Linked DNA regions of Homo sapiens. The protein of the gene in region 1 interacts with the protein of each later gene in a pairwise test. Each region holds a gene or a part of one and is shown in the gene's direction. Other genes may lie near its edges.

Evidence for each region.
Region 2: the proteins of CEP70 (region 1) and GLE1 interact in binary tests that used the Homo sapiens proteins (3 or more experiments, as listed by UniProt).
Region 3: the proteins of CEP70 (region 1) and SPANXN3 interact in binary tests that used the Homo sapiens proteins (3 or more experiments, as listed by UniProt).
Region 4: the proteins of CEP70 (region 1) and MAGOH interact in binary tests that used the Homo sapiens proteins (3 or more experiments, as listed by UniProt).
Region 5: the proteins of CEP70 (region 1) and IK interact in binary tests that used the Homo sapiens proteins (3 or more experiments, as listed by UniProt).
Region 6: the proteins of CEP70 (region 1) and HDAC4 interact in binary tests that used the Homo sapiens proteins (3 or more experiments, as listed by UniProt).
Region 7: the proteins of CEP70 (region 1) and ATOSB interact in binary tests that used the Homo sapiens proteins (3 or more experiments, as listed by UniProt).

The regions. Positions count from the first base shown.
Region 1 is NC_000003.12:138,503,761-138,507,260, reverse strand, and holds part of CEP70 (centrosomal protein of 70 kDa), read left to right. Parts: intron 1-1,795; coding exon 1,796-1,966; intron 1,967-3,383; coding exon of another isoform or gene 3,384-3,425; exon of another isoform or gene 3,426-3,500.
Region 2 is NC_000009.12:128,507,719-128,511,218, forward strand, and holds part of GLE1 (mRNA export factor GLE1), read left to right. Parts: intron 1-1,157; coding exon 1,158-1,379; intron 1,380-3,500. UniProt on the Homo sapiens protein: Required for the export of mRNAs containing poly(A) tails from the nucleus into the cytoplasm. May be involved in the terminal step of the mRNA transport through the nuclear pore complex (NPC).
Region 3 is NC_000023.11:143,508,235-143,511,355, reverse strand, and holds the end of SPANXN3 (sperm protein associated with the nucleus on the X chromosome N3), read left to right. Parts: intron 1-2,193; coding exon 2,194-2,541; 3' UTR 2,542-2,621; downstream 2,622-3,121.
Region 4 is NC_000001.11:53,232,019-53,235,518, reverse strand, and holds part of MAGOH (protein mago nashi homolog), read left to right. Parts: intron 1-1,866; coding exon 1,867-1,977; intron 1,978-3,500. UniProt on the Homo sapiens protein: Required for pre-mRNA splicing as component of the spliceosome. Plays a redundant role with MAGOHB as core component of the exon junction complex (EJC) and in the nonsense-mediated decay (NMD) pathway.
Region 5 is NC_000005.10:140,654,329-140,657,828, forward strand, and holds part of IK (protein Red), read left to right. Parts: intron 1-187; coding exon 188-258; intron 259-352; coding exon 353-399; intron 400-1,500; coding exon 1,501-1,664; intron 1,665-3,225; coding exon 3,226-3,334; intron 3,335-3,500. UniProt on the Homo sapiens protein: Involved in pre-mRNA splicing as a component of the spliceosome. Auxiliary spliceosomal protein that regulates selection of alternative splice sites in a small set of target pre-mRNA species. Required for normal mitotic cell cycle progression.
Region 6 is NC_000002.12:239,135,521-239,139,020, reverse strand, and holds part of HDAC4 (histone deacetylase 4), read left to right. Parts: intron 1-3,500. UniProt on the Homo sapiens protein: Responsible for the deacetylation of lysine residues on the N-terminal part of the core histones (H2A, H2B, H3 and H4).
Region 7 is NC_000009.12:35,105,863-35,109,362, reverse strand, and holds part of ATOSB (atos homolog protein B), read left to right. Parts: exon of another isoform or gene 1-158; intron 159-625; 5' UTR 626-769; intron 770-1,013; 5' UTR 1,014-1,088; coding exon 1,089-1,982; intron 1,983-2,471; coding exon 2,472-2,530; intron 2,531-2,719; coding exon 2,720-2,825; intron 2,826-2,952; coding exon 2,953-3,111; intron 3,112-3,353; coding exon 3,354-3,422; intron 3,423-3,500. UniProt on the Homo sapiens protein: Transcription regulator that may syncronize transcriptional and translational programs.

The DNA.
Region 1 (3,500 bases):
GTTGTGTATTTTTAAATTTAGCTCTTGCATATTTCTTGTTAGGAAATACCTTGTTATTTCCTAGGTATTTTATAACTTTTATTGCTATTGTAAATGGGAACCAAGCACCTTTCTGAAAACTGTTTTGTTTTAGACTTTCTTGTACCAGTATATAACTGGATTTCATTTTGTTTCTGAGACTCAATTTGAGAGGCTTTGTCCTTTAAAAGGGGAATTCAAGCCGGGTATGGTGGCTCATGCCTGTAATCTTAACACTTTGGGTGACCGAGGCAGGAGGATTGCTAGAGGGCAGGAGTTTGAGACCAGCCTGGGCAATATAGTGAGACCACATCTCTAGAAAAAAAAAAATTTAATTAGCTGGGCATGGTGGCTTGTGCCTGTAGTCCTAGCACTTGAGAGGTTGACATGGGAAGATCACTTGAGCCCAGGAATTCAACGCTGCAGTGAGCTCCGTTCACACCACTGCACTCCATCTTAGGCTGCAGAGTGAGACTCTGTCAAATAAATATATAAAACAAATATACATACATCAATTTGAAGTGAAATATTGAATTATACTAATTTGGACTTAAAAAGCTTCTAAATAAACATCTGAAGTAATAAACATCTTAAGTCATATTACCAGGAGGCCTATTAGTTATATCTTGAAGTATGACCAGGGACAAAGATTCAAGAGCAAAATGCTATCTTTATATTGTGAAACTTTTTATTAAATAGGCTGAACTTGATGGTGGTAATAGGAAATGGCTTTATTCTTCTCTCTTTAAACATGCTTTTTGAGGTCTCCCTTTTTTTCCTCGGATGATATGTAAGGTAGAACCCATCACTTATGGGGAGAGGGTTATAGTCAAATAGTATACTATCTTAATATATTAAGATACCTAAAATTCAATCCAGGCATCAATGATATTATTTTTGGAGACAGGGTCTTGCTCTGTTGCCCAGGCTGAAGTGCATTATCATAGCTCACTGCAGCCTTGAATTCCTGGGCTCAAGTGATCCTCCTGCCTCAACCTCCCAAAGTGCTGGGATTACAGGCATGAGCCACCACACTCAGCCTGGGGATTGCTGTTAATTTCCTTAAATAGTCTGATAATGTTCTTGTGAGTTTGTAGGAGAATATGCCTACTTTTAAAAGATGCATGCTTTATTATTTGAGGGTGAAGAGTTTCTTCAAATGGTTCACCTAAAAATATAGATAGTGAGCAAATATGGCAAAATACTAACAATTTTTGAACCTAGGTAGTGTTTGTAATAGTTAATTTTGTTTCAACTTTACTGCGGCATAGGATGCCCGATATTTGGTTAAACATTATTCTGGATGTGTCTGGGAAGGTGCTTCTGGATGAGATTGACATCCGAATCAGTAGACTTTAGTAAATCAGACTGCCTTTCCTAATGGGGTGGGCCTCATCCAATGATTCAAAGCCCTGAGTAGAACAAAAGGCTGAATAAGAGGGAGCTCCTCCTCCCTGACTGCTTTCAAGATGGGACACTGGTTTTTTTCTTGCCTTCAGACTCAAACTGAAACATTAGCACTTGCAGGGGTCTCAGTCTGCCTGCATTTGGACTGCAAATACCCATTACCTTTTCTGGGTCTTCGCTTACTCACTGCAGATCTTGGGACTTGTCAGTCTTCATAATTGCATGAGCCAATTCCTTATGATAATTTTCTTTGTATATTTAATGAAATATGTGTATATAATATATATAGACATAAAGCACTCCTTTAAAATATATAACTTTGTAGGCATAGGATAAATATTTTGACTATATACACTATGTTTTTTTAAAGGTGCTGTGTAGCATCAATTCAATTATCCACAATCCAAGAGCTCCAGTAATAATTTATAAACAGACCAAAGGGGGAGTCCAAAATTTTAATAAAGATCTTGTTCAAGATTGTGGATTTGAGCATCTTGTTCCTGTAATAGAAATGTGGGCAGATCAACTGACATCCTTAAAGGTAAGGGGTTGACTATGATTATATGCTTTGAACATCTATTGGACTCTATGTGCTTTATTAATAGGACTTAATTCAGGGCTAAAAATTAAATAGGGTTTAATTTTTTTGTTTGTGTGTTAACTCTAAAGCTAAAAAAGCTTATTATCTAAAACCGAAATCTTCCTACTTACATATCTATTTTAGGTACTGTCTATTTGATGTTGTCATTACTGTAAGCTTTACCTCCTCTAAGATTCTACCAAACAAGAAATTTTGGGGTTAGTTTCCTTATTGAAAATCTATAGTGGATCCACTTTGTACTTCTAGGCCCTTCCCTGTTCTACCTTCATCTGCCTCCTTTTCATATCTCCATGCTGCGATTTTCCTGGCCCTTATCCCTCTTCAGATATAATGTCTTATCCTTCATTTTATTATAATTGGGGATATTTTCTCTCTCTTCACACTTTATTTTCTGTCTCTCAGAACTGAGCTTATCTCCATTTCTGCTTATTCTCTAGAACAGATAGTAAGCTAGCAGCCAACGCTACCCTTCCCTATCCTATCTCTTCATGGAAGACCACATTTTATTTATAGAGTTATTGTGTATTTATTGCATAGCTTCAGGTTTTTTCAGTTTTTGTTAACTAGTTTGCTGAAAGGTAAATAGTTGAAATCAGTAGTATTTAACTTCTTTGCCCTTTACACTTTAGATTTATTAGTAACTAATATAATACATAGCATATGCCTGTTAATGAAAATGTGATTCAATAACAGTGTTTGCAACATAAGTCTTATTACATGAAGTACAAATGATGCAGAAGATATCTGTTAAGAATGTATAAGCTCCATGAAGACAGTGTTTTTATTTGTTCTGATATGTCCCCAAGATCCTCCTGATGAATGAGTGCTCAATTAATATTTGTTAAAAGGAATGAAGCAGAATATTATATTCCAAGACAACAAAATTGGGGGTGGTGATGTTAATTTTTTTTAAATTTCGACTTCCCTTTTTATATAGGGCTCAGACAGAGCTATACAATACATAAACATTTTGATTGAGTGACAGTGCTAGATTAATATACTTACTTTATAGACCGGAGTTCCTCCAGTCTGTATCTCAGAAGAGTGTAAAATAATTAGTAATAGTGTAAATCATGGTATTTCCTCAATCACTGCCTGTCAGAGGGTTCTCCCAGTAGGAGGAAACAGTGCTGACTCCACCTTTCTTCATCTCAGAAGGGATGGACTAGAAAAAGCCCTAGCCTTCCTAGAAGAAAAGACTAGAAGAGGAAGAAGACAAAGGGAAGAATCACACTAATGGATAGTTATTGATCGTTTATCATGCTAAGCCATTATGGGATGAACACAAGATTCAGACTAATTAGACAAAATATACTAAAAAATATGAAACAAAATGTAATCATTTATATCGTTAAAGGAAATGAGTGACATAAAAATAGATTACCGGTTGAAGTTCTGAGTGAATGATGCAGATAACTTGTGCTCTAGAGTCTGGAGGAGAAAGAGAACACTCTGATTGTAGCCCCCAAGAAGG
Region 2 (3,500 bases), on another chromosome or scaffold:
CTCTAGTAATAATACAAAAATTAGCCGGGTGTGGTGGTCGACACCTGTAATCCCAGCTGCTCGGGAGGCTGAAGCAGGAGAATTGCTTGAACCCGGGAGGTGGAGGTTGCAGTGAGCTGAGATCGTGCCACTGCACTCCAGCCTGGGTGACAGAGCAAGACTCCATCTCAAAAAAAAGGCTGGGCACACAGTGGCTCACGCCTGTAATCCCAGCACTTTGGGAGGCTGAGGCGGGTGGATCGCCTGAGGTCAGGAGTTCGAGACCAGCCTGACTAACATGGAGAAAACCCCGTATCTACTAAAAGTACAAAATTAGCCAGGCATGGTGGTGCATGCCTGTAATCCCAGCTACTCAGGAGGCTGAGGCAGGAGAATCACTTGAACCTGGGAGGTGGAGGTTGTGGTGAGCCAAGATCGTGCCATTGCACTCCAGCCTGGGCAACAAGAGCGAAACTCCATCTCAAAAAAAAAAAAAAAAAAGACCAGCCTGGGCAACATATCAAGACTCCATCTCTATAAAAAATGAAAAAATAATTAGCTGAATATAGTGGCGCATGCCTGTACTCCCAGCTGCTGGGGAGACTGGTTGAGGTGGGAGGATAGCTTGAGCCCAGGAGGTCAGGCTACAGTGAGCCATGATTAGGTCACTGCACTCCAGCCTGGGTAACAGAGTGAGACCCTGTCTCAAAAATAATTAATTTTAAAAATGAAAAAATATATACATCTAGGTTTGTGTAAGGATGCTTTACGATACTCGCACAATGACAAGATCACCTAACCCTGTGTTTCTCAGAACTTACCCCCATTGTTAAGTGACTGACATTCTACTGATTGTGTATACAGTAGCTTACTTCAGAATTCCTCGTGTTCTGTTCAGTGCTTTAGATTGCTTTCACATATGCTTTAGTGGGAATCTTTGTGCATTGTCCCTTTTTCTGTAGTTAGGGTTATTTAGTCTGATTTTCATTAGAAGGATAGTAGTCTAGGTCATTATCAAGAAACCACTGTACTTTGTTTTCATCTGATTGTTAATACATTACTTTGGGTCTTTGATGTTTATTTATTTAGGCCTTCTTAGATGTTCAGTAAGGCATGTAGTGGATTATACTGAGAACAGTTGACGTGTAAGTTGAGCTTAACCCTATTCTTTTCTCTAGGATGTTTTAGAAGAATGTATGTCTCTTCCCAAGCTATCTTCTTATTCTGGATGGGTGGTAGAGCACGTCCTACCCCATATGCAGGAGAACCAACCTCTGTCTGAGACTTCGCCATCCTCTACGTCAGCTTCAGCCCTAGATCAACCCTCATTTGTTCCCAAATCTCCTGACGCAAGCTCTGCCTTTTCCCCAGCCTCCCCTGCAACACCAAATGGAACCAAGGTAAGGTTGTGATCAGCTTAAGACAAAAGACATGGTGGCTGCAAAGTCAAAATGTTTAATATTGTCATATGACAGTGACCATACCCTAGGGGAAATAATGATTGCTCATTGTTGTAGCTGTTGTAGAGACAATGTTGACAGCACCATTCAGTGTTCTCTTTAGACAGATCCAGAGGGAGAAAAATCCCCTCTATTCTTAGTACCGAGAATAGTATAACTAATTTCATGAGCAATTGGATTTTTTTTTTTTTCTGATGAACGCTGCGTCTGTTTAACTGATATGGTCTCCCTTTTTGTGTTATCTGCTGGAAGAAGGCTTAGAGTGAAATGTATACCTTCTCTTTAAGTTTACATGCCTTCTCTCATTGGTTCTGTAGGAGATTTTACCCTATTCCTGGCTCTGTTTTGTCCCTGCCTCTGTTTTTTTGTTATTTCTCCCACTTAAAAATGCTAAACTGGGGCCATTTCCTCTCAGAAGACCCCTCTCTCTCACTAGAGAGAGAACTATTTTCCTTTCTCTTTCTCTTGCCTATTAAACCTCCACTCCTAAACGCAAAAAAAAAAAAAAAAGTTAAATTGGACCCAACACAGTGGCTCATGTCCATAATTCCAGTGCTTTGGAAGGCCAAGACAAGAGGATTGCTTGAGCCCAGGAGTTCAAGACCAGCCTGGGCAACATAGTGAGACCTTGTCTCTCCAAAATACTTAAAAATTGGCTAGGCATGGTGGCTCGAGCTTGTTGTCCTAGCTACTTGGGACATTGAGATGGGAGGATCACTTGAGCCCAGGAGTTTGAGACTACAGTGAGCTGTGATCAAGCCATTACATTCCAGCCTAGGCAACAGAGTGAGTCCCTATCTCAAAAAAAAGTTAAATTTTGGAAGTTTTTTAAAATTACTTTTTATATACTTCTAGAGGTAGTTTGTGTATATACAAATATACGTGAACATGTCTTCTTCTTCACCCTCCCTTTTTTTTGAGCTGAGGTCTGTCTCTGTCAACCAGGATGGAGTGCAGTGGCATGAACATGGCTCACTGCAGCCTCCACCTCCCAGGCTCAATCCACCCTCCTGTCTCAGCCTCCCGAATAGCTGGGACTGCGTGTGGACACCACCATACTTGGCTATTTTCTTTTTCTTTTTTTTTTTTGAGACGGAGTCTTGCTCTGTCCCCCAGGCTGGAGTGCAGTGACGCAATTTCAGCTCACTGCAACTTCCGCCTCCCGGCTTCAAGCGATTCTCCCACCTCAGCCTCCTGAGCGGCTGGGATTACAGGCACCCACTATCACGCCCGGCTTATGTTTGTATTTTTAGTGGAGATGGTGTTTCACCATATTGGCCTGGCTGTTCTCAAACTCCTGACCTTATGATCTGCCCACCTCGGCCTCCCAAAGTGCTGGGATTACAGGTGTGAACCACCACACCCAGGCTTTTTTTTTTTTTTTTTTTTAAGATGGAGTCTAGCTCTGTCACCCAGGCTGGAGTACAGTGGCATGGTCTCGGCTTACTGCAACCTTTGCCTCCTGGGTTCACGCGGTTCTTCTGCCTCAGCCTCCCAAGTAGCTGAGATTACAGGTGTGCGCCACCATGCCTGGCTAATTTTTGTATTCTTAGTAGAGACAGGATTTTGCCATGTTGTCCAGTCTGGTCTCAAACTACTGACCTCAGATGATCTACCCACCTCGGCCTCCCAAAGTGCTGGGATTATAGTCGTGAGCCACTGTGCCTGGCCAGTTTTTTTTTTTTTTTTCTTTTTTACATAGAAAGTATTTTTTTTCTATCTAGTAGTTCATCTTTTAAAATATTAGTCTTTAAAAAATATTCTTTGTGGCCACGTGTGGTGGCTCACACGTGTAATCCCAGCACTTTGGGAGGCTGAGGCAGGTGGATCACTTGAGATCAGTAGTTCGAGAGCAGCTTGACCACAGTGAAACCCTGTCTCTACTAAAAATACAAAATTAGCTGGGCGTCGTGGCGCACGCCTGTAATCCCATCTACTTGGGAGGCTGAGGCACTAGAATTGCTTGAACCCGGGAGACGGAGGTTGCAGTGAGCTGAGATCATGCCATTGTACTCTAGCCTGGGTAACGGAGCAAGACTCAGTCTCAAAATATATGTATAT
Region 3 (3,121 bases), on another chromosome or scaffold:
GAGCAGGGGCGACTTTATTTATGCCAGCTAGAAGGCATGATATCATATGGCCTGGTTTCTGCCTGTCTACAGAAGTTGCCTGATAATTCCGATTGAGGTCAGTTCTGGGGACAGCTAGGGTCCCTACTGGGTTATGAGCAGCATCTTGTTGGTGGAGGGTGTTCTCATGGACCTGGGCACCCGTAAATATGTGTTCCCTGTCCTCCAGGGTGAGGGTAGAGGAGAGGATGACATATATGTCATGCCAGGTAAGGTCATAAGATTTAGGGAAGTACAGACATTCCTTGAGGAAGGAGGTAGGATCCATTGAAAAGGAGCAAAGTCTCTTTTCAGTATGGGAGAAGTCAGCTAGGGAACTTGAATTCAGATTATGCCTTCAGTCCTTGCAACCTCCTGCAAGGGAAAGACTTTGGAAGGCCTTTGGGCATGTGTCTGGTTTTCGGCAAAAGAGCGTTGGGCGTGAGACCTGGTTTGAGGTGGAGAAGGAAGGGGGATGGAGGGTGACAGTAAGGGGGTGGAGGAGCCGGATCCGAAGGAGAAGGTGGAGGGAATGGGAGAGGGCAGGAGCCAGACGAAGGGGTTTGTTGGCCAGGTTGAAATTCAGAGGAGGAAGGCTTGTCCCGAGGAGGAGGCATTTTGGGGGGTTTCTCCTTGAGGAGGAAGATTTGAAAAGGTGAACAAGATTGGCAGGAGAGTGAGTGAGGCATGAGCGGAGATAAGCAAAGCACTTCAGATCATTTACCATTGTGTTGGAGAAAGATTTTTAGATGATGTTGAATTTGAAAGTTGAATGTTTTGTTTTTTAGAAGAGGGGAGTGAATACTCTGGATGGGAGTGAATACTCTGGGGAAAGTGAGTACCCCAGAAGGGAGTGAATACCCCAGAGGGGAGTGAGTTCTCCAGAGGGAAGTGAATACCCCAGAGGAAAGTGAGTACTGGATTCCACCTGGGAGAAGGGACCTGGAGAGTTGGGACAGCCCCATAGCTATTCATGCTCCCCAGAGGACGGAGCGGCCAGAATGGCAAGTGTTCTGAGGCTGTCCCCTGAGAAGGGAGGCTGCAGTCACCTGGTGACTGGGGAGACCTCTCACCCAGCACTGGAATTTTTTTGGAGAACAAGCAGAAATAGAAAGGAATCCAGAAAGGAAGAATAGGGAGACTCACCCACGAATTGAAGCCCAGTGTTGGATGTGATGTCCAGCAATGGGGGTGATCCTGGTTGCAGCTGCTTGGGAAGGGGAAGGAAGGAAAAATAAGATGGAGAGTTTGATCAATATCTGGAGGTTAGTCCAGGGCTGGAGAAGATGAGAGAATAGGGGAAACAGGACTGGGAACAGACAGTCCACTCAGGATCTGGAAGTAGGCCCCGGTCTAGTTTGTGCTGCTTGCTGCTTTCTGCTTTCCAGGTTGCAAGAGAAAACTTACCCATTAGAACCCAATCACCGTCCTGGGTTTTGGCACCAAAGTGTTAGGTTTTGAAGGGAAGATGAGGGTGAAAGAAAGACAGACAGAGAGGGTGCATCTCAAACAACAACACAGGAATATTGCAGACACCTGTGGAAGTGGGGGACCAGCTTAATGCCAGAGCCCACTGCCGCTTATAGCCTGGGGTACTTACAGGTATGGGTGGGAGGGAGCTGGGCAGTATGGCTTGCTGCCCAGGAGGATATTGATAAGATGTTCTTATGATCAGGTGGTTTGGCCCTTTTTCCAGTGGAATATCATTGTGGTGTTCCTTTGCAGCTGCCTGGAAAGGGGAATGAAGGAAAAATAAGATGGAGAGTTTAATCAATATCTGGAGGTTAGCCCAGGGCTGGAGAAGATGAAAGAATAAGGGGAACAGGACTTATGATAGGGATGTTTCTTTAGTTGAGCCTTTGTCCACCTTGTGGTCAGGTGGTTAGGCAGGATGTTGCTCATGGCCTGAACCCCCATGGAATGTTTCACTTTGACCAAGGTCTGCAACATAGCAAAAACTTACAAAATCATGCAGTTTGGACTAACAGGTGACTCTACCCATGCTCCTCTTCTTCTTCTGCATAGATACCTACCCTATGATTTCACCTTGTTCTTCTCTGGCACACACCCCTTCCTCCACCTGCATTCCTTCTCATAAAGCCCCCCTTGCTATCTAGTCTCTATCCTATTCACCCAAAATAATGTCTTTCTGGCCTCTCCCTATTTTCTTACCAGATGCAAGAGGTACCAAACAGAGTCTTAGCCCCCGAACAGAGTTTGAAGAACACAAAAACATCAGAATATCCAATAATATTTGTGTATTACCTCAGGAAGGGTAAGAAAATAAATTCAAATCAACTGGAGAATGAACAGTCCCAAGAGAACTCCATCAATCCAATCCAAAAGGAGGAGGACGAAGGCGTAGACTTATCTGAAGGATCTTCAAATGAGGATGAAGACCTAGGCCCATGTGAAGGACCTTCAAAGGAGGACAAAGATCTAGACTCATCTGAAGGATCCTCACAGGAGGATGAAGACCTAGGCTTATCTGAAGGATCTTCACAGGACAGTGGGGAGGATTAGTCACACATGGAGAAACCAAATTGGACAAATCATCACCACTGATGGCGATGATTACAATAAAATCAAGTTTAAGGAGCTGATGACTGTGTTTATCTCTGCCTGTTGTCTGGTGTGGGGTGGGGAAGGGAAGGGAAGAGGTAGGCATTTGAGAAGGGAGGGATATGAGGTCCTGTAGGTTGGGAGACGGACCCACAGGTTGACAGTTAGCCAGACATTGCAAATAAGGACTGGCGGAGGACTGATTCCTCAGACAAATTTTCTTCTTAAAATTTTGTCTTACAGGAGAGGAAGAAAAGGACATGGTGTTTCTTGGAGCATGTGATTGTGTAGAAGGGTGTACAAAAAGATCTGTATTCGCTGGGCATGGTGGCTCATGCCTCTAATCCCAGCACTTTGGGAGGCTGAGACTGGCAGTCACCTGAGGTCAGGAGTTTGAGACCAGCATGGGCCAACATGGTGAACCCCTGTCTCTACTAAAAAATATATAAAAATTAGCCAGGCATGGTGTCAGGCACCTGTAATCCCAGCTACTTGAAGGCCAAGGCAGGAGAATCGCTTGAACCCAGGAGGTGGAAGTTGC
Region 4 (3,500 bases), on another chromosome or scaffold:
GCATTGTTTTTATTGTTTCTAGTAGTATTGAAAGATAAAGAACAGGGAGAGAGACACATGTCTGTAGACAGCTTCTGGATTATTTCCCAAATCATCTTTTAGTTGGGATTTTTTTATTTTACATTGTGGAATCAATTACTGGTAACCTTTGACATACCTTGGTTTGAACCCTGAGTCTGCTGCTTACTACCCCATGTGACCTTGGGCAAGTTCCTGGCTGAACTTGATAAATCTCTGTTTCTTCACCTGTAAAAACAGGAATAATAAAAGCTACCTCCCACTCCCAAGTGCTGTCATAAAATTAAATATGTTCTATTTAAAGTGCTCTATATTCCCTGTGTACATGGTACACAATGAAGAGCTATTTAATTTACATCTGAGTGGGAAAGGGAGCATGGGAAAGCAGTTGACATCATTGAATGCATGTTAGATGTCAGGCGTGGCATCTTATTTAACCCTGATTGTAAGCCCATGTGATGGGGGAGGGTATTATAGCCCCCTTACAAATAAGAAAATAAAGGCCCAGGTATTAATTATGAGGCTTGTTCTGAGTTACCCCTGCTAGTAAGAGATACAGCAGGAATTCCCAATCCTGCCCCAGTAAAGTTTGTATTCTCCGTTCTGTGATTTCTACTACATCATTAAGGCTTCATCAAAGCTACTCTTTCCTTTTAACCACTTTGCCACCTTTGAAAATGTCTTAGCATATATTTTCATATTGTTATTTTAGCTATTGATTTTATGCTTATTCACACATGTCAATATCCTCACTATTTTTTTACACAGGCATATCTTTTAAAATACATTTTGCTCCTCAGGAGTGTATTACCTAGTTAAGAATAACTGGCCGGGCGCGGTGACTCACACCTGTAATCCCAGCACTTTGGGAGGCCGAGGCGGGCGGATCACGAGGTCAGGAGATCGAGACCATCCTGGCTAATACGGTGAAGCCCTGTCTGTACTGAAAATACAAAAAAATTAGCCAGGCATGGTGGCGGGTGCCTGTAGTCCCAGCTACTTAGGAGGCTGAGGCAGGAGAATGGCATGAACCCAGGAGGCAGAGTTCGCAATGAGCCGAGATCGCACCACTGCACTCCAGCCTGGGCGACAGAGCAAGGCTCCGTTTCAAAAAAAAAAAAAAAAAAGAATAACCAGGGCATGTGGGTGTCGCAGTCTCTTTTTTGCTGCAACAAAATGCCTGAGACTGGGTAATTTGTAAGCAGTAAAAATATATTTCTCACAATTTTGGAGGCTGGAAAGTCCAAGATCAAGGCGCTGGCAAGTTCAGTGTCTAGTGAGGGCCCAGTCTCTGCTTCCACAACTGTGCCTTGTTTTTGCATCCTCCAGAAGGAATGAATGCTGTGTCCTCATATGGTGAAAGAACAAGAAAGGGGCCAGCTAGTTCCCTTAAGCTCTCTCCTAAAGCACTAATCTATCCCTGGGGCCTCTGCCCTCAAGGCCTGATCACCTCCTAAAGGCCCTATCTCTTAACACTGTTGCTTTGGGGATTAATTTCAGTATGATTTTTTTGGAGGAGACAAAAACATTCAAACCATGGCAGGGGGCACTCACAGACCTGTTTTGGGTTTCGTTGTGAGTTGGGTATGTGGGCAGGCAGAAGGGCCATGTGAACAGGATGTACCAGGAGGTAGTAACAGCTAGATAGGGGACTGAGGTGCAGTTACTGGATACTTCTGACCGTGTCCCTCACCTGCATCATGCCGAGGTTGAGCATGAATGTCTTCCCACTTAAGGAGATGCCAGAAATAAGTCTGCAGGAACAGTTATTTTTATCTTCCATCACTATCTGAGTCAAAGCACTGCTTAAGGATACAACATACATTTTGTTTTTTAACTTGCGTTCAGGCTTATGTACATAAAAGCGTGATGGAGGAACTGAAGAGAATAATTGACGACAGTGAAATTACCAAAGAGGATGATGCATTGTGGCCTCCTCCTGACCGAGTGGGCCGGCAGGTGTGTTTTATTGATTATCCTGTAGTGCAGAAATCTTACAAATAAGACCCCCCACACTCCCTCCTCCACTTAAAGCTTTTGTTGCCTATCTCACTTACTAACTACTATGGACAAAGCATTGTGGAGATACAAAGAGAAATAGAACATAATTATTTCAACAATCTAATGAAAGGAAAATCATACAAATAATTCAGTGTATGTATTTAAATTCATGTATATTTATATACATTAATGTATATATTCATTCTGAGCACCATTTTGGTAACTAAAAAATAAAAGCCACTGTCATATTGAACTGAATTAACAGAAAAGGTATTTTCACTCTTGACTGCTACCATCCTAATCCAGACTTCTAATAGATTTCCTTGTTTTTCCTCTTGTTCCATACCATCCATTTTTCCATCCTGAAAGCCAGTGTGATTTATTTATTATTTTTTTTTTGAGTTGGAGTCTCGCTCTGTCGCCCAGGCTGGAGTGCAGTGGCATAATCTCAGCTCACTGTAACCTCTGCCTCCTGGGTTCAAGCGATTCTCCTGCCTCAGCCTCCCGAATAGCTGGGATTACAGGCGTCCTCCACCATGCCCAGCTAATTTTTGTATTTGTAGTAGAGATGGCGTTTCACCATGTTGGCCAGGCTAGTCTCAAACTCCTGACCTCAGGTGATCCGCCTGCCTTACCCTCCCAAAGTGCTGTGGTTACAGGCGTAAGCCGCCGCATCCTACTGGTCTGATCTTTAAAAACGTAAATTTGCTTATGTATTCCACTGATTTAAACTCCAATGGCTTCCCACTGTACTTAAAATTCAAACTCCCACCTTATCTTTTACCGGGCTTCCAATCTGTCATGGTGTTCAAACCTTACTAGCTTCATTTCTGTTCCTCAGACATACCTAGGTGGTTCTTACTTCAGGGCCTTTGCACTTGCCACATTCCGCCTAAAATATTCTTCCTTTAACTTTATACAAGACTGTCTCTATTATTGAGGTCTTCAAAAGTCACTTCCTCAGTGATGTCTTGCCTGTCCATCCAATCTAAGAAGTCGCTTCCCATCATTAAGAAAAAGATCTGTTGTGTTGTCTTTTTGTGTTTTTTTTTCTTTTTGCTTTCAGTTTTATCACAATATGTGTTGTCTTTGTAGCACTTGCTATTGTCTAAAATTGTCTTACTTGCTTTTCAGTGTTTTCCACTGCTGTATCTCTAGTGACTAAAATAGTACCCATGTATAGTAAAAGCTCAATAATAATGTATTTGTTAAATTAATATGAAAACCCATATAAACTCATTCCTAATAATCTCAAAATGATGGACCAACCCTTGAAGAGTTTTTTTTAAAAATCCACCCTCAGTACTTACTAAAGTTAACTTTAATTTATGTTCAAGGGAGCTCAGTAATATCATATATATGTATTTTGCTTTACCACTTATAAAATTTTTATTTCTATTAACTCGTTCTACCATCACAACAATTCTGTAAAGAGGGAAGGGCATATTCCTTTGTACCAGCAATAAGCCATTGGATACTGT
Region 5 (3,500 bases), on another chromosome or scaffold:
ACAGCAGTTATTGTACTTTGTTGAAATTGTTTAATTTGTCTGTCTCATCTGCTATAAGCTCCATTAGAGTAAGAACAATATCTGTCATGTTTAATATTATATTCTTAGTTCCTGGTACAGTGTGGTGTAGTGGATGTTCAATAAATATATAAAATGAGTGTCCTAACCCTGCTTGCTTTCCTGTTAGGTACGAGCTGAGATTGCCAGCAAAGAGAAAGAGGAAGAGGAACTGATGGAAAAGCCCCAGAAAGAAACCAAGTAAGTAAATATTATGGAAAGGTTGAGAATTTAGAAAGGTGGGACCTAAAGTTAGAGCACATTTAGCAAAAATAAAACTTTTTTGTCTTTTCAGGAAAGATGAGGATCCTGAAAATAAAATTGAATTTAAAACACGTCTGGGTGAGTACAGTTTCTATACTAGTGACTATGCATTCTGGATGAATTGTACGGAATTTAATGCTCTGGGAAGGATATGCTTCTCCTTTCCCCCAACCTCCTTTCTTCTTTCTTTCTTTTTGAGACAGTGTCTCACTTAATCGCCCAGGCTGGAGTGCAGTGGTGTGATCATGGCTCAGTGCAGCCTTGACCTCCTGGACTCAGCCTCTTGTGTAGCTGGCACCACAGGCATGTGCCACCATACCTAGCTAATTTTTTTTTTTATTTTTTGCAGAGATGGGGTTCTCTGTGTATTGCCCAGGCCGGTCTCAAACTCCTGGGCTCAAGTGATCCTCCTGCCTTGACCTCCCAAAGAGCTGGGATTCTTTCTTGCCCCCAAAACAACTAACTCCCATAAAATACTCTAATAAGACTCAGACATAGATTTAATTATTTCATATGTCATTTATGTCTCCTCAGGTAGATTGAAAGATTTTTCAGTTTGGGGCTTATGAGTTAAAAGAAGTAACATGGTTAGTGATTAAAAGTTCAAAACTTGGAGTCAGAGAGACCTGAGTTTAAACCTTGATGATGAAACAGCACTAAGTGTATGATTTTAGGCAACTGACTTTGCTGTTTGTTCATCTGTAAAAATTGGGTTACTATTTACCACATGACTTTATTGTAGGGATGAAGAAAAATGAAATCTATAACATGCCTATCATATTGAGCAGGTAGTAGAGCTGTTTTTTCCATCATCATCAATATTACCTTAAACTTCATCCTTCTTCCTCACAGGACTTAATACAATACAGGTGCATAGTGCCCTTGAAGAGGCAATGTAGAAGAGTGGACAGGAGCCCAGGCTTTGGAGTTACATGGCCTGGTTCCATTCTTTGCTCCATTACTTAGTAGATACATGACTTTAGGTAAATTACTTAAATCTCAGCCATAGTATTCTTATCAGTAAAAAGGATAATAATATCCACTTCATAGGGCTGTTGCAAAGATTAAATGACGCAAAGCTTGCATAGCACTTGGCATGGTGGCTAGCACAGAGTAAGCACATAAGTGACAGCTGTTCTTGTAGATCCTGGCTACTTGCTGCTCTTCTCCTTATTGTAGGCCGCAATGTTTACCGAATGCTTTTTAAGAGCAAAGCATATGAGCGGAATGAGTTGTTCCTGCCGGGCCGCATGGCCTATGTGGTAGACCTGGATGATGAGTATGCTGACACAGATATCCCCACCACTCTTATCCGCAGCAAGGCTGATTGCCCCACCATGGAGGTGAGTGAATGGAATCCTGAGAGCCTATCATGTGAGCCTCAAGCCTGGGAATCAGCCTGGCCTCTGCCCCGTGTCCCTTGTCCACCATGTCACCAAGTGCTGTTCACTTTTACCTCCTAAATCTCAACTGAATCCATTCACTTTTCCACTTTTTCACCAATAACATTCCAGTCTAAGCTATAATCATTTGCTGGAACTATTAACTTACTATTTTTTTAGAGACCAAGTCTCACTCTGTCACCCAGGATGGAGTGCAGTGGTGCTATCTTGGCTCACTGCAAACTCCGCCTCCCAGGTTCAAACGATTCTCCTGCCGCAGCCTTCCAAGTAGCTGGGACTACAGGCATTCATCACCACACCTGGTTAATTTTTTTATTTTTAGTAGAGATTGGGTTTTACCACGTTGGCTAGGCTATTCCTGACCTCAAGTGATCCATCCGCCTTGGCCTCCCAAAGTACTGGGATTACAGGCATGAGCCACTGCGCCAGTCCTCTGGAGCTATTAAAAAGGCTTCTAATTGGTTTCCGCACTTCCACTCTGGTTTCCGCACTTCCACTCTGATTTGTTATTATATCTTGTTATTGAGGTGTTATTCACATGCCATATAATTCATCCTTTAAAGAGAATTTTTTTAAAAATTTTTGTGGATATATAGTAGGTATATATATTTATGAGGTACATGAGATGTTTTGATACAGGCATATAATGCATAATAATCACATCATGGAAAATGGGGTATCCATCCCGTTAAACATTTATCTTTTGTGTTACAAACAATCCATTTATACTCTTTTAGTTGTTTTAGAATGTATAAATTATTACTGCCTATAGTCACCCTGTTGTGCTATCATGTAGTAGGCCTTATTCATTCTTTCTATTTTTTTGGTACCTATTAACCACCCCTACCTCCCCTACCCTTCTAAAATATACAGTTTGGCTGGGTGCAGTGGCTCACACCTGTAATCCCAGCACTTTGGGAGGCTGAGGTGTGAGGATCACTTGAGGTTAGGAGTTCAATACCAGGTGGGCCAACATTGTAAAACCTGATCTCTACTAAAAATTAGCCAGGCGTGGCGGCATGTGCCCGTAATCCCAGTTACTCGGAAGGCTGAGGCATGAGAATTGCTTGAACCCAGAAGGTGGAGGTTGCAGTGAGCCAAGATCGTGCCACTGCATTCTAGCCTGGGCGACAGAATGAGACTCTGTCTCCAAATAAATAAATAAAATGTAAATTTTTGTCTCACTACAGTTTAGAAGCTTTTAGTAGTATCTCATTCTTAGGATAAAGAGCAAAATCTTTACCATGACTTTGAGCCTCTGCAACATCTGGCCTTTCTAGAATGTTCTAGACTCCTGACTTTCTTGAATGGTCTTGATTCATTTTGATGCAGGGCTTTTGTGCAGGCTGTTTTATCTCTGGAATATCCTTTCACAGCACTTCGTTTCCCTCCCTTCACCTACTGTATTGTAATTCAGTCTTTAGTTTGTTAAGTGAATGAATGAATAAATGAAGAGATTTCTGCTGAGTGGTTTAACATTCTTGTTTCTTGGTATTTTCAGGCCCAGACCACACTGACCACAAATGACATTGTCATTAGCAAGCTGACCCAGATCCTTTCATACCTGAGGCAGGGAACCCGTAACAAGAAGCTTAAGAAGAAGGATAAAGGTACCTGGAGGGTTAGAGAGAGAAGCCTTACCCACAGAGGACGTTTGGGGATAAAACCAAGGTCTCCTGGAGCTTTCTGTCTCCAGAATATTGAGAGGCTCCTGGGAAGCAGAGAAAAATGGGAGTACTGGAGCATTGGCAAGGAGACAGTTACAGCCAGATTCTG
Region 6 (3,500 bases), on another chromosome or scaffold:
GGCAAGCTAGAGAGGAGTCAGGGGACGCTTGGAGTCCCTAGGTGGGAAAGATGTCAGAGACGCAGGAGCTGAGTGGCAAGGCAGGGAGGAGTGGCGCCCAGGCTGGCCGAGTCGCACACTGACCATACTCGGAGGCTTTCCAGGGCAGCAGGTCCGAGGACCTCGCTCCGTGTTCCTTGAGCTCCTTTGCGCCCCCTGCCTTTATCCCACACGTGTCCCGAGCGCCTTGTGCCAGGCCCAGGGACAGAACCAGGCAGGCAGCAAGGACCTGCCCCACACTCCACACAATGCCCCACTGACAAGGAGAGGCCACCCCCAGAGCACGGGGAAGAAGAGAGAGGCAGAGAGAGGCAGTCCCGCAGGCTGAGTGGTGCCCTGGGCCTGGGTGGGCCTGACTGCAGGGCAGGGGTGGGAGGGGTACGCTTTAGCAGTGAGTTTTCTGATGAGTTGAGCTGGAAATGCTGTGTCTGCTTCATGGGGCAGAGTTCTACTGAGTGGGAGGTTCTTTCTGAATTCTCTCCAACTTACAGAAGGCTATAATTTATTAAATATAGTTATTGACTTTCCTTCTTAAATATTTAGAAATGAATCCTGCCCTTCCAAAGGATTGGCAAATCTTAGCTGGGATACAGAGGCATGAGTGTTTAGCATTTTCATTTCAAATTTCAAGACCGTTTATGTATAAACATTTTTAGAGACTAGAATTACTGCTCAGAACGAATTTTGCCCTTTGTCTCCAGGCTGCTTAATCCCCAATTTCTCTTACTCTTTCTACTTCATACATCGATTTCTTTTATTACCTGTCTTCTTCAGCCTGCCAACTTCAGTACTTATTTAGATGATTAGAAGTTTTAACAGTCCTCTGTATGGCTGTGGTCATAGCTGAGGTCTACCAGTAATAAGCCTTATAATGCAACCTAGAAATTACTTCCTGCCCTGAGGTTAACACTGGTTGCATCTTGTTGATTGTGGTCCTAGATACATGTTTTTATTTAAAATGAGGCACTTATGTACATGGTAGTTAATATTGGAACAGTGCCTTGTTTGGGTGGGTCTGCATCATTCCAGTTCTGTGTTAATTTTTAGAAATCACGATACGTAAATGAAGCTACTGGAAATTAATAGAACATGTAGAAGGAGTTACAGGAAATACCAAGAGGTGCCATTGTTCATGTTCCACATCAGATGTTCATTAGAGTGGGCACGGGCAGCCTTTGCATGTTGGATCACACCCAGGCGCCCTTTCTGGGTTTCAGTATCTCTAGAGTTGGACGGGTCTGTGAGAACACCTGTGCTTCATGGCCAGGGGCTGGCTCTCCGTTCTCACGTGGTGCAGAGTGTAGTGAGCTTGCCCGTCAGAGGGGGTGTCTCGAGTGGATGAGGATGTGGGGGGAGCAGGGGCCTCCCAGCCTGGCTCTCAGCACTGCCTTTTCTGTTCACCCTGGGGTCCCTAGAAACACTACTGTACCTTGAAGGCCCCCTGGACCCAGGGAAGCCCAGTGTGCCGGGCACCTCCTCCTCTACAGTGCCAGGGAGGCCCAGAGTGCCGGCACCTCCTCCTCTACAGGCCAGGGAAGCCCAGTGTGCCGGCACCTCCTCTACAGGGAGGAGGCAGGGCTCAGAGAGTGAGAGGAAGTCGCCCAGGTGCGTAAGGGGACAGCTCCTCTGTGGCCGCTGCTGCTGTTATTTACACGCGTGCCTGGATGCTCTGACCTCAGGCCCGCGGACTTTCCCTCTGAGCACATGCTGAGATGCGGTCCGGGGGCGCCAGCCTCAGAATGCCTCCCGCAGGGCTCGGCCCCGAGGCAGCAGATGCCAGAACGCCCTGCGATTTCTCAGGTGGACCAGTCGGCATCTCCAAGGAACAAATTCTCAGAAGCCTCCTTTAGTTCCAGAAATGGGCTTAAAAAAAACCTTGCTTACAAAGGAAATGAAAACTTTGCAAACATTAGAACGTCTCCTTATTTTGTTCCCAAATGATAACACAAGCATTTCCTCTACAGCATAACTTACTGATAATTCTTTAACTTTTGACAAAAAAAAAATTGCCTAGGAAAAATGTTTTCCTCAGTAGCCCTTTAATCATTCCTTACACAATGTAATATGTGAGCAAATCTAAAGGGAGTTGCAGGGTTTCCTCTGGGGCGAGGTGCGCCGTGAGTTTGCTCCTAAGTGAGAAGGCCGGGCTTTCTGTTCTGTAGGAACAGCCTGAGTGTAAGTGTTTGTCAGGAGAAGCGTTTCTTCCTATCCCCAATGGCCAGTCATATGTCTTTGGGGAAATGTCTCTTCAGATCCTTGGCCCACTTTTATACTGGCTGCTTCAGGTTTTGCTGGTGAGTTGCTGGAGTTCCCGCATGTTCTGGATACTGCTCCCTTGTCGGATGAATGGCTTGCACATGTTTCCCCTTCCCACAGGTCGTCTCTTCACTCTGGTGATTCTCTTCCTTTGCTGTGCAGAAGCTTTTTAGTTGAGCAGAGTCCCAGTTGCCTGTTTTCGTTTTTGTTGCCTGTGCTTTTGAGGTCTTAGCCATGGATCTTTCACAATAGCCAAGAGGTCGAATCAACCTCAGTGTCCTTCAGTGGATGAATAGACAGAGAAAATGTGGTGCTGTACACAGTGGAATACCATGCAGCCATCAAAAAGGATAGAACCCTGACATTTGCAGCAACATAGATGGAACTAGAGGCCCTCATGTTAAGTGAACTAAGCCAGGCACAGAAAGACAAACATGGCATTTTCTCATTCATCTGGGGGAGCTAAAAACGTTGCTGTCATGGAGGTAGAGAGTATAATGAAATCTGTTATCTATTCATTATTAACGTTAGCTTCTGGCAAGGGGATTTCTATCTGCCAAACCCCACTAACTAGCATGATTACAACAACATTTTATTCCTTCTCTTTGTTTGCCCATTCATTCAGCAGACATTCCTTGAGTAGCTACTGTGTAGGGGATATAGTGGTGATAAACTATTGTCCTTTTTAGCAAAACACGTTCATTCTACAAGCAAAAAGATGTTAAATATCACAGTAGTTCAAGTCCTTGGAGACTGTTGCTGCTGACTCTTCCTGTGTGGCCTTCTAATCTTTACTCCTGGCTTGTGTTTGCTTTATCCAAGCCCATTCTTTAAAAGGTACATGATCTATAACCTGTTTTTCTAACTTAATGTATCATAAACAAGTGTCCAAGTAATCAGCTAGATCGTTCCCAACCCCCAGAGCATCCCGGTGTGCAATGCCCCTCCGTTCTGTTAACACCAAGGTGTCGGGGAAGCCGCATAGCTCTGCCATGCCTGCTGGGTGCTCGGCCCTGCAGCGGAGGCTTCATGGGCATCAGGCCATCTCCTTATTTCTTAACGTTACATCCCAAGAGTGGAGCTCCAGCATCAAAGGTTAGACAGATTTTGAAGGCCTTTGACATAGATTGCCAAATTGTCCTGCAGAAAGGGTGCCACTAACTGATTTGTGATTCACCCAACAGTGTTCGCCGTTCCTCTAGGCC
Region 7 (3,500 bases), on another chromosome or scaffold:
CTTCTGGCAGTGACCCCTTCCCCTTCCCCTTCTTGTTTTTGGTCGGATTTGTTGCCTCTTGTTAAAGAGACAGGCTGCTGGAGGCAATTTGGAGTTCAGGGCTGAAAGGCCAGCTCTGAGCTGACTTGAAATTTGTACCTCTGAGGACCGCTGATGGGGTATAACTGTGTGGGAGACCTCTGCCCTTAGTGCCCTAGGATGGCACTTGTCCCTTTGGAGATAGACATATAAGAAGGAGTTGTGCAATTTGGTGGCTTTGAGTAAGAAAGCTGAATTCTTCCCCTGGCCGCCTCTCAGCTGACACGGTCTCTTGGATCTTGGGGGTCTCTCATCCCTTCCTCCATGTAGGGCAGGAGTCCTCAAATGGTGGCCCTGACAAGTAGTTATTCTACCTCAACTCACTTGTCACATCCTTATTATACTGAGCCAAGACCTGCCTCTTTGACTCCTTAGGTAGCCCAACTCTGCCATCTGTGCCCTGGACCCCAAGCCTACCCTTTCTGTTCCTGAAGAGCCTCTCACATGGGAGAAGGATGTCCTGGAGTGTACTATTAGCCTATAATTGGTGACAGGCCTTACCGCTGGCTCCAGTGATCCTGGCTTACGTCTGTTCTTCTCTCCTCAGGGTCCTGCTGAGCTCAGGAGCTGCACGGAATGGTGGCAGTCACCTTGCCAGTGCAGCAGGCATGGATCAGACTGCAAGCTAGGGGCACGAGGCATCAGTTGGGAAGAGGGGACGCACAGCTAGGCTTGAGGCCTCTTCATCGGGGTAAGTACCAGGGAGAAGAGGGGGAAGTGTGTCCAGTAAGAAGCCTGAGCTAAACCTGTCACCCTCTCAGGAGTTCTGAGAGTGGTCTCTATATTCCATTAGTCCATCCAGGGATTTGTACACATTCATCCTTGGGAACCCATCAAAGTCACCCCTTTAGGCAAGGAGAGGGTCTGAAACTCAGCTGGAAGGAAGAAGACTCATTGATTCCCCTGACCACCTTTTCTTCTCTTCTCTTACACAGATGTCCCCAGGCCCCCCAGCCCAGGCCCAGCATAAAGGCCGTGTTGGGGGGCCCCCCTGACCCAAGGGGGGCTTCATGCGCCACGTGCAGGCGGAGCCGTCTCCATCCTCAGAGCCGGAGGCTGGCCCTTCACAGCCTCCAGTCAGGCAGGGGGCCCTCCAGGGTGGCCTGCTCATGGGCTACAGCCCAGCAGGGGGGGCGACATCCCCCGGGGTCTACCAGGTATCCATCTTTTCCCCTCCGGCTGGTACCTCTGAGCCTCATAGGGCCCTGAAACGACAAGCCCCATCCACTGAGGGTCCCCGGGAGCTGAAGAGAGGCCCTGGGCTGGGGGCCAGAGAGGGACTACCCCCTGAAGAACCATCTACTGTGGGGCTCTTAGGCCCAGAGGGACCGGGGCTGGGACTAGGTGTGGCCAGCCAGCATTTCTCCCACCGTGGCCTCTGTGTTGTGGAACAGAGAAGTAGTGTCACCTCATCTTGGACTTCGGGGGCCTGGAGTCCCCCCTGCCCCCCATCAAATGCTTCCTGCAATACTTTGCACACCAGAGACTGGGCCTCCCCAGATCCAGGGGGACAGGGGTCCCTGGGGGAGTCCCCAGGGCCAGCCCCTCCAGGCCAGCTGCACACACTTGACACTGATTTGCACAGTCTTGCACAAATAGGGGGTAAGAGCCCAGTGGCTGGGGTGGGCAATGGGGGTAGCCTCTGGCCTAGGGAGTCCCCTGGCACTGCCAATGGGCACAGTCCCGAGCACACACCCCCTGGCCCTGGACCCCCAGGCCCCTGCCCCACCAAGCGAAGGCTGCTTCCTGCTGGAGAAGCCCCAGATGTCAGCTCTGAGGAAGAGGGGCCAGCCCCTCGGAGGCGCCGGGGATCCCTGGGCCACCCTACTGCTGCCAACAGTTCTGATGCCAAAGCCACACCCTTCTGGAGCCACCTGCTGCCTGGGCCCAAAGAGCCTGTTTTGGTAAGCCAATAAAGGACCTCATTTACTCTTTTTTTACTTTTTTTTTTTTTTTTTTTTTTTTGAGATGGGATCTCACTCCATCACTGCTGGAGTGCAGTGGCACAATCTCAGCTGACTGCAACCTCCTCCTCCCAGGCTCAAGGGATCCTCCAACCTCAGCCTCCCAAGTATCTGGGACCACAGGCACATGACATTGCACCCAGCTAATTTTTGGTATTTTTGGTAGAAATGGGGTTTCGCCATGTTGCCCAAGCTGGTCTCGAACTCCTGAGCTCAAATCATCGACCCACCTTGGCCTTCTAAAGTGTTGTGATTACAGGCGCTCAAGCCACTGCGCCTGTCCTTCATGTACTCTTAAGTGGATATTTGTGTGGGTAAAGGTGGAGGCCTGGGGGGCAGGGTGTTCCTTTGAGAGTTTGTGATGAGCTTCTGCCCCAAAACATACATGGCCTTCACCCTGTGTCTTTTCCCAATCATTTCTCTCCGTAGGACCCAACAGACTGCGGTCCCATGGGGCGGAGGCTGAAAGGAGCCCGTCGCCTGAAGCTGTAAGTGACCAGCTTTTTCCTCTACCCTGTCCCTGAGAATGGGGGCAGAAGTCTGTACTCTTTCCAGCATCCGAGTAGGGGACCCCAGGGCAGAAGCCCTACATAGTGGCAGAGGGTGGAGTCCAAGGGCATAAGCAGGAATCCCAGAATACCTCAAGCCAACCCCCTGTGTTTCCCTTCCTCTACCAGGAGCCCCCTTCGAAGCCTCCGGAAGGGGCCAGGCCTGCTGAGCCCCCCCAGTGCCTCCCCTGTTCCTACCCCTGCTGTCAGCCGTACCCTGCTGGGCAACTTTGAGGTAGCTCCCGTTGGGGTTTGTGATTGCCGGGGTCCTGGGAGAGGTGGGATGGTGGAATGTGGCTTGGATGGATAAGGAAAAGAATTGGCATCTCTCTCTTCATGTGTTTTCCCTACCCTAATCCCAGGAATCATTGCTGCGAGGACGTTTTGCACCATCTGGCCACATTGAGGGCTTCACAGCAGAAATTGGAGCTAGTGGGTCATACTGCCCCCAGCACGTCACGCTGCCTGTCACTGTCACATTCTTTGATGTTTCTGAGCAAAATGCCCCGGCTCCCTTCCTGGTATGCCTTGACTCCAACCCCAAAGTCAGCTCATCAAGAGGATGAGGATTTGGGGGCGGGGCCAGGGGGCAAGAGGTATTTCTTACTTATTCCTCACCTAGAAGTGAGTCAGGGCCAGGTGAGGAGAACTCTACTGTAGGGCAGGGGCAGGTTCAGGGTGAGAGCTTGTGGAGAGGGACATGTGTTTAGGGCCCAGGGTTTTCCTAGTCCCCACCTTGACTGATGGCTCCCTGGCCTTCCAGGGCATCGTGGATCTGAACCCCTTGGGGAGGAAGGGTTACAGCGTGCCCAAGGTGGGCACCGTCCAAGTGGTGAGTTTGCCCTGAGGGAGTGGGAGTGGGGAGAGAGGAAAGCAGCCCTCAGGCCCTACCAACCTTGACTGTCCTGTC